Regions from separate parts of the Homo sapiens genome. Here all the other regions are linked to region 1. Evidence: fine-mapped expression QTL. A gene starts in region 1. Each other region holds a variant in brackets. All regions are shown on one strand. Distances are between the middles of the regions.

What was found. PIP is the estimated chance that this variant, and not a neighbour inherited with it, causes the effect. A credible set is the group of variants that fine-mapping cannot tell apart.
Region 2: its variant is the best candidate, but not a certain one, in a credible set for the expression of DHRS7 in minor salivary gland (GTEx, PIP 0.59).
Region 3: its variant is the best candidate, but not a certain one, in a credible set for the expression of DHRS7 in fibroblasts (GTEx, PIP 0.71).

What each region holds. Positions count from the first base shown.
Region 1 is chr14:60,164,034-60,166,800 of GRCh38, forward strand. It overlaps DHRS7 (dehydrogenase/reductase 7), which reads right to left and starts at 1,365. Exons shown (of 7, transcript NM_016029.4): 1 at 1,144-1,365. The coding sequence starts at 1,276. RefSeq lists enhancers at 829-888, 1,079-1,128 and a silencer at 1,329-1,598.
Region 2 is chr14:60,141,732-60,144,498 of GRCh38, forward strand. PCNX4 (pecanex 4) reads left to right here. Exons shown (of 11, transcript NM_001330177.2): 11 at 1-2,767. DHRS7 (dehydrogenase/reductase 7) reads right to left here. Exons shown (of 7, transcript NM_016029.4): 7 at 2,388-2,767. Among named protein-coding and RNA genes, the nearest start is that of DHRS7, 22 kb to the right of the region's middle. The variant T/C (reference allele first, on the strand shown) is at 1,315.
Region 3 is chr14:60,188,995-60,191,761 of GRCh38, forward strand. No RefSeq gene overlaps it. Among named protein-coding and RNA genes, the nearest start is that of DHRS7, 25 kb to the left of the region's middle. RefSeq lists an enhancer at 906-1,025. The variant G/T (reference allele first, on the strand shown) is at 1,414.

The DNA.
Region 1 (2,767 bases):
ATGTTGTGTATTTTTCGTGAACTCAATGTCAGTGCTGCACATGCTATACCCAAGAAAACCCAACCAGAAAAATGAAATACTAAGGAATAATATTTTCTCGGGTGGGGTTAAGCTTTGGAGGGGCACAAACCACTGTATTACCAGATTTTTTTTTTTTTTTTTTTTTGTCCACAGGAACCAATTCTCACCTTGGGATCAATATCACCCCCCTCAACGCCCAACCCATAACGCCCCCCCCAAACATAGTCTATCTTTCGAGCTACTATCTCTTCCAAGCAAACTTTGTAACATGCTTTGAGTATTTTTATACCAGAAACTTGGTCCAGGGAAACCCCATTTCCCCAAGTCCTTAAGGATCCAAAGCCTAGCTTTCGGTAGGTCATTTAATTTCTCTGAACATCAGTTTCCCTATCTGGAAAATAAGATTAATAATGCCTACCTTGTAAGAGTTGTTGTAAAAGTTAAATGTTATGTGTGTAAAGCGCTGAGCCAACATACAGCAAATGTACACGATGTCAAATATTAAGCAAGACACAGATAAAGTGAGATAGGCAGTATGCCAATAATGATCTCGCTCCAGCAAACTGCCATTTTTAGTTCTTTCTAGTGTTTGACTAGAATGAGTAAGTAGGTGAAGGACTTCGGATTATCTCAGATTTTATTTCAAAACTGCAGGAGTGGGAAGTGGAGGACAGACTACTTCAGGTAGTAGAACGACCGGGCTTCCGGTACTTACAAAGGAGTTTCCCTTACAAACGCAGGGGGACGCTCACTGTTTCTCAAAGTATCGTCCTCTGAGACAACACCAGAATCCCTTGAGTCCTGCGTAAGATGTCAGAGTCCTCAGGAGCACCGCCGACTCCAGTGCTCTCTTAACAGTTTGGCACTCCCTGGAGAGGTTTCCTAGCCTGAATGGCAAGTCCATGCCATCTTCCGACCAGTACAGAAGACAAAGGGGCTTTTTAGCCCTCGCCTCTTCCTCCCCAACCCGCAGCCCCTGCGTAAGGGGCAGCCGGGCCTTCGGGAAGCTCCACGCAACCCACAAAGGACCCGGGATCACTGCAGAACCCCCGGAGACCCGGACACGCCTCGGCAGCTCCGAGCCCGGCCTCCCACTCGGGAGAGGCTTTGGCCGGTCCTCACCTGGGCGTCGTCCCTGCCACTCGGCCCATAGTAGCGTCAGGTCGCCGTCAGCCCTCAGGAAGCGCAGCAGCTGCACCAAGAGCAGGAGCAGCGCGCACAGCACCAGCAGCCACAGCAGCAGCTCCCAGTTCATTGCGGCCGCGCACGCCCAGCTCGGGGGGAAGAAGACGGCCCGCACCAGAGTCGCGTCGCTGCCCTGCGGGATCGCAGCGCCACCCCTTCGGCCAGCCCAGAGCCGCACTGCCCCGGCTCCGCCCAGGGAGCAGGCCGGGAGGAGGAGCGGCTCGGGCGCGCCGGGCTCAGCACTCGCGGCCCCACTCGCGGTCCTTGGGCGGCCCGCGCCCTCATGCGGCACACCCGGCGGGGCCGGCAGATTGCTTGAATTCAAGTGTCCGAGACCAGCCTGGGCAACATGAGGAAACCCTGTGTCTACCAAAAATAAATAAATAAAATTCCAGTATTTTTAAAGAAGCTGATTCAAACATAAGCTACATATTATACTACGTTATTTCCTCTCTGTACAGGGACACTATCAACGGCCAGGAGACAGATAGAATCATTCTTGCTTGGCCCCTCTTCTCCATTCCTATTCAGAAAGAACATCCCCTTTTCAAGCTTCAGTATCTTTTCATGAGGTCGAGAAAGTGCTGAAGAAAGACTGTGGCTATCACTCAAGACCCCACAAGCCAAGGCAATGGTCCCTCCATGGGGACAAGGTCCTTTTACAATTAGAGAAAAAAAGACTGAAGCCATGTGCTGTGTTGGCACCTTACAACCTGATTCTGACCACACACAAATTTACTCTGGTGTCTGTTTGGCAACCAAAGCCTAGGTTGGTACCAAATCCTCCCCTTACCCAAGCCATTATTCACATCCTAATGTAAACAGCAAATAAAAACAGAGAATGTAATGAAAACACCAAGGTCTTGCCTACTCTAATACACAAAAGAGTAAAATACTGTTTTTGATTAATTTCCGTTTGAAATGACCTTCAAAACATTTAATTGCTTCCCACTAAATACCTACATGTATTTGAGGCATCAATAGTAGCATCTTTCTTGTTTTCAAGCATTTGAAAGCAAGAGGGTTTTCCATTCACAAGCCTCAGAGGGACCCAGTTAGAGTGCATAGAAACTAGGCCATGTATGAGAACGACCTGTGGCCAAATGGAGAAAGTTCTGGGCGTTGATGCAGTAGAACTTTCATCCTCTTCATTTCCTAGAGTACTTTGTGTGCTCTGATGTCAAAGGCTCTTCCTTGGCTGAAACTAAATATGACTTTAAAACAGTCATGGAAATAAAAGAAGCAGTGACTTCCCTCCCCAGTGTTGTTTTCTTTTTCTAGTCTTGCCTGCCAAACTTTTGTTTTTCTTTAAATGTTTTGAAGAATGTTACTTGCAGTAATCAAATTTCCTTAAATAGCTCTTCCTTCTCTTTTTAAATCCTATTATAAACCCCCTACCTGCCTCCCCACCCTCATCCTTCTCTAAAAAGCTTTTTGGGGTTATCTGGACTCAGAGTCATCTTTCCCTAATCTCACCTCTTTTCACAATTACTTCTGAACTATATCTGAAATTGTTTTTTAATTATTTTCAGGGTTAATATAGTATTGTTCCAATGGAACT
Region 2 (2,767 bases), 22 kb before region 1:
GCTGCATGGTATAGAATATAACAGTTTGTTTATACCATTCACCTGTTGATGGACATTTGTTGGTTCCAGTTTTGGGCTATTATGTAAAGCTGCTATGAGCATTCATTTACAAGTCTTTATGTGGACATAAGCTTTCATTTCTCTTGGGCAAATACCTAGGACTGGGATGGCTAAATCATATGATAAGTGTATATTTAAATTTTTAAGGAACTGCTAAAAGTCTTTTTCAAGTTAATTGTACCTTTTGACATTCCCGCCAGCAGTTTATGTGTACAAAATGTATAATTACATTTATGTAAAACTATAAAATGCAAACTAATCTATAATAATGCAAGCACATCATTGGTTGCCTGGAATGGGGTGGGCGAGGGGAAATGATTACAAAAGGGCAAAGGGAAACTTCTGGGGCTGATATATGTGTTTACTCTCTTGATTGTGGTTATGGTTCACAAGTGTAGCCATATGGCAAAACTTAACAAATTGTACACTTTAAATATATGCAGTTTATCATACATCAATTATACCTCAGTAAAGGTGTCAGAAATAACAGGATATTTATATTTAAATCTACCTTTGAATTACCGATTGTGACTGAGGTCTCATGTGGCTTACTGGTGAATCCAGTAGTTGAGGAAACGAAAGCCGTCACTTCTGCTAACTCTTTTACCAACTCACCTGCTGTCACCTTACACAACCCCAACTGTGTTTCAGCTTTGGAGTAATGAACACACCATTTTCTTCCTACTTAAAAGTCCACTCAGGATAATGATTAAGAAATACATTGATGCCGAGTAATAAATACTTTAAAAAAAGTTAAATGTGAACATTTGGCTTTCACAGCTCTTGACTGTCTTTGGCGAACCTTGACATAAAGCTGCCTTTTCCATCTTGGGCTGCTGACAAAAAAGCCTAAGAAAGAAAGAGGGTGTGTACAGAAAATTACATGCCATAGAAAAATACCATACACAGGCCGGGAGCGGTGGCACTTTGGGAGGCCAGGGCGGGTGGATCATTTGAGGTCAGGAGTTTGAGACCAGCCTGGCCAACATGGTGAAACCCCCGTCTCTACTAAAAATACAAAACTTAGCCGGGCATGGTGGTGCACACCTGTAGTCCCAGCTACTTGGGAGGTTGAGGCAGGAGGATCGCTTGAACCCAGGAGGCAGAGATTGCGGTGAACTGAGATAGTGCCACTGTACTCTAGCCTGGGCGACACAGTAAGACTCCATCTCCAAAAGAAAGAAAGAAAGAAAGAAAAAAATGCCATACAGATGAATCTTTAAAGATTTTAATTTATATATACCTCTTCTACCA[T/C]TCATTGGCTGGAGTAGTTGAACAGACATCAGCAGGCACAATGCTAGGCAGGCACTGGAGATTCAGTGATGAATAAAACAAAACTGACCTGGAACCTGGCCTCCTGAAGCTTCTCTTCATCTGTCTAAATTCCTTTCTTTCAAGGCCCAGTGCAAGTGACACCTTCATCAGGAAGGGCTTCCACATGATTCTATCTGCAAATCTCCCTTTTCTGAACTATTATGCTTATAGTCTGTACCAGGCCACATGACATATGTTATTTTGTGGCATTCTAGAATTATTCCAATCTTTTCATTCTTATAATTGGTGTGTTGTATTCAATAAATAATGTTGTTATTCCAGTTTTCATCACTGGTCACGCAAGAGTCCTCTCTTTATTATATTTTATCCCCATAGTTCACCCCGTTTCCTCCCCATCCTAAGTAACTATTACCATACCTAAATATATATCTAATTAGGTTGTATGTTTTCTTGCAAAATGAGCACTATCTTCTGTGCACATATATTTGTGTATGTGAACAGTATTGTGTTAGCGTTGCTTCTTTATTTCTTCACTTATGACTATGCCTCTAGTACATATCCATGTTGTTATGTATGCATTTATTCCATTGCTTCTACCCGCTATACCTCATCGTGTACCTCTACCACATGTCATCTTCCCCCTTTTCCAAGGACAGCCACTTGGGTGGCTTCCAACTTGCCCAACAACTATTCTACAGTTATTTTATGTATGTTACTTTGGCTCCAGCTCAATTGTGAACTGCTTGTAGATAAGGACCATGTTTTTCTTTACCTGTTACTCCTGCTGATTTCCTATTAGTGCCTGTGCATGTTTTCTGCTGTAAGGTGTTAAATGTTAAAGTAAAATTAATAATAGTAGAAGTAAGGAGTTGCCAGTGGAATCTTCCTGAGCTGAATCTAATCATGGCTTTACCCCTTACTAGCTTTGTGACCTTGACCTTGGAAAAGTAAAACCTTGTTGGTCTTTCTTCATCTATCAAGGTAGGTAATACCATCTATCTTAGTGGGCTGTTATGAGGAATGAGTTAATTAACTAATACTAAGCACTCCAGTACAGTAGAAGACATACAACAGGTGTTTAATGAATAATAGGTGCAATGAATCCTACCTGCTGCTTCAAATTACAGCCATCTGTACCTGTCAACTTTTCTAAGAGTATAAGCATCTTGGAGGTAAGGTCATTTCAAATACTTCTTTATATCTGGTCATTACCCAGCACTCTGCTTTGTGTGAAATATTCTATACATTTATGTTGCTATGGTTTGGATGTTTTTGTCCCCTCCAAAATTCATGTCGAAACTTAATCCCCAAAGCAACAGTATTAAAGGATGTGGCCTTTAAGAGGTGACTGAGTAATGAATGAGATTAAATGCTCTTTTGAAAGCATTTTGCTCCTCTTTCCCTTCTGTCCCTTCCACCATGTGAGGACATA
Region 3 (2,767 bases), 25 kb after region 1:
CCATTATTCTCTGTTTTTGAATGATCAAAAAGTGAAGTTTCCTTCACTTTTGGGCTAATGCCCAAATGCCCTTTGGGAAAGTTCAACTTCTCTTTTATTTGAAAATTAAAATTCTTATCTGATGAACTTCAAAATCTCCATCCAAAGATGAATACAGAGGTTATGAGTTGCTCTAGCTCTCTAAGTGCTACATAAAACAGACGAAGAATAGAATTCCAGGACTCGGCCTTCCCAGTCCGCTATAGACATTATTATAATTCTCCAACTGAAAGCCAAATTCTGGCTATAAATTCTGGCTATGTTACCATTAAGCTGACTTCTCATCCACATTTTCTAATACCAACACTTTCAAAAAGAATTGAAAACATATATGGTTAGTATATAAGCAGAGTATAGCGGCTGAGAGCTGGGATGCTGGCACCCAATGACTTCGATGCAGAATCTTGGCTCTGCCACTTACTAGCTTGTGACCTTGAGACCCTCCACCTCAACCTCTTTGTGCCTGTTTCCTCAACTACCCAGTGGAGATAATAAAAGTGTTCATACCTTAAGGTAGTTATAAGGAATTAATGAGTCAATATTTATAAAGCGCATAGATTGGTATCTAACACACAGTAAGTGCTAAAAAGGTATCTGTTAAACAAAATTATACAATAAATAGAGCAACACAAGGCCTTTGTCCCATTATTACAATCATGAAATGCTCTAGGGGAAAAATGAGAAAACAGGCTTTTTGTTTTTGCTACTGTCACTTCCTTCTTCCAGTCCCTTCTTCCTTTTTCTGTGTCTATTTCATGTCTTCTTTCCAGGTTCCTACCAGGGTGTTAGCAGAGAACAACTGGTGATGCTTAAGGTGCCAGTCTAAGCTTCCTTCGCAGAGGTGCCTTTGAATTTCCCCTGGAGACTCTGAAAAGCTAAAAAGCCCGCAGAACTTAAAGAAGTGAATCTCTAGCCCTGCAGCATAAGTGAGGAGTTGTATTTTCAGAGAGGGGGACCCTCCAGGCCTGGTCTGCACACTCCTCAGGCTGGCCCTGGGGAGAACAGTAATGCAAATTCATACCTTTGAGCTAAAAAATTAAATTTAAAAAATAAGCAGCCTCAAGTTTCTGCAGTCTAGCATATGGCAACTGTGGCACTGTCTTGAAATGAGTCATCTGAAGCCCAAGTTAGAAGCAGACATAATTTCCAGATGTCAAAAAAAATATTTTTCCCTAAACAGAAAAGCAAGCAAGATGGAGTGCAATTTTCAAAACTGCTTATTTTACTAGCTGTTAATGTTTACTCACTTCTGATTTTCCCAAGATTATCCCCTTGTAAGCTGCGGCCTAAATGCATTTAAATTGCCTTTGAATATACCAAGCAATGCTTACTACCATGGAAACAGAACCAAGGATATGCAAGATGACTCCTCTG[G/T]GGCATAATTTGGTGCTCTAGATACTTTTGATTGGTTGCTCCCTGCTCTGTCACCTCTTCTCTGAAATGTAATCATGTTGGTTGGATTTATTTTTATTATCCACAGGAGCACACAATTCACCAAGTAGTGGAAAATGCCATTCATTCATCAAAGTCCTTCCAGAGAGACATGGGCGGCATTAGCGAGCAAATCCTTATGTGTCAGAAAACACGGGCAGATTGCTCCAGAAGGATTTGGGCCTTTGCCCAACAGTCTAGGAGATAACCTGCACCTTTAAAAATGTTATTTGTGTAGGAGAAAGGACTACAGACTGGTGCCCCAAAGAATGCTGCCTAATGCCCTGGTTCTGGAGAATGTAAGTGGATAGTAGTTGTACACTTCTGTATAAATGGTATATGAAATAATAATAATAAGGGATGAAAACAGAAATATCCAATTCCTGGCTTTGTTGTTAAGGTATTTATAAGCTCAATAAAATTACTTAGCTCTGTTTTTTTAATGTAAAATGGCCATTTGTAGAGTGGAGTAGAGAATAGGACTTGGGTTCAGTTTGAGGTCAATGTTTGTAAACTAATGAATCCTTTGGATGAAGGATCTAGGCATAAAGAACAAATAGTATTTCCCTTGCCTGTCTCATCAATCCACAATGAAGATGAGAGAAAAATATCAAGGTCAAGTCTGTTGTTTTTGTTTAAAAAATACCATCTGAGCCGAGAGCATCTATCTTAGCCACTTGAAGGGATAATGTCCTTATGCTTCCTACAAAACTTGATTCATGTAATGTGTACAAACACAAAACAAACAAATACTGTGATTTTTGGATTCATATTTCCTTCTCTTTCTGGAGTGCCTTGAAATTCTCTGGGCATATGTCAATGCATGGGAACAGAGACCAGCTGCTTCTTGGAATAAACAATATCACAGCAATGAAAAGATGCAAAGGCCAGAGTTGGACAAGCTGAGGCTACCTGACCTTCACTCTGCACAGAAATGATTGTGGCATTTAGATGTTGATAGATGTTGAAATATTAAAACATTGACAACTAAGTTTAAGCTCTATAGTACAGAAAAGTTCCTGTATATCCCTAAGAAATATATTAATAAATATATTTACAGATATTTCTAACAGAAAAATTGGCAAGGAAGGTGGACTGATCATTTATGTAAATGAATATAAAATTAGTTCATAAAAACTTGAGGGGAATTTAATTAATAATCAGAAAAATTAAAAAACTATTTTATAACTGATTCGCAAAACAATTTAATCATTTAATGCTGGCAGAGTTATGGAAAGTGAGGCAGACATATGTCATGTTTGTGGCCAACGGCATCTTTTGAACAATGTTCTTATAT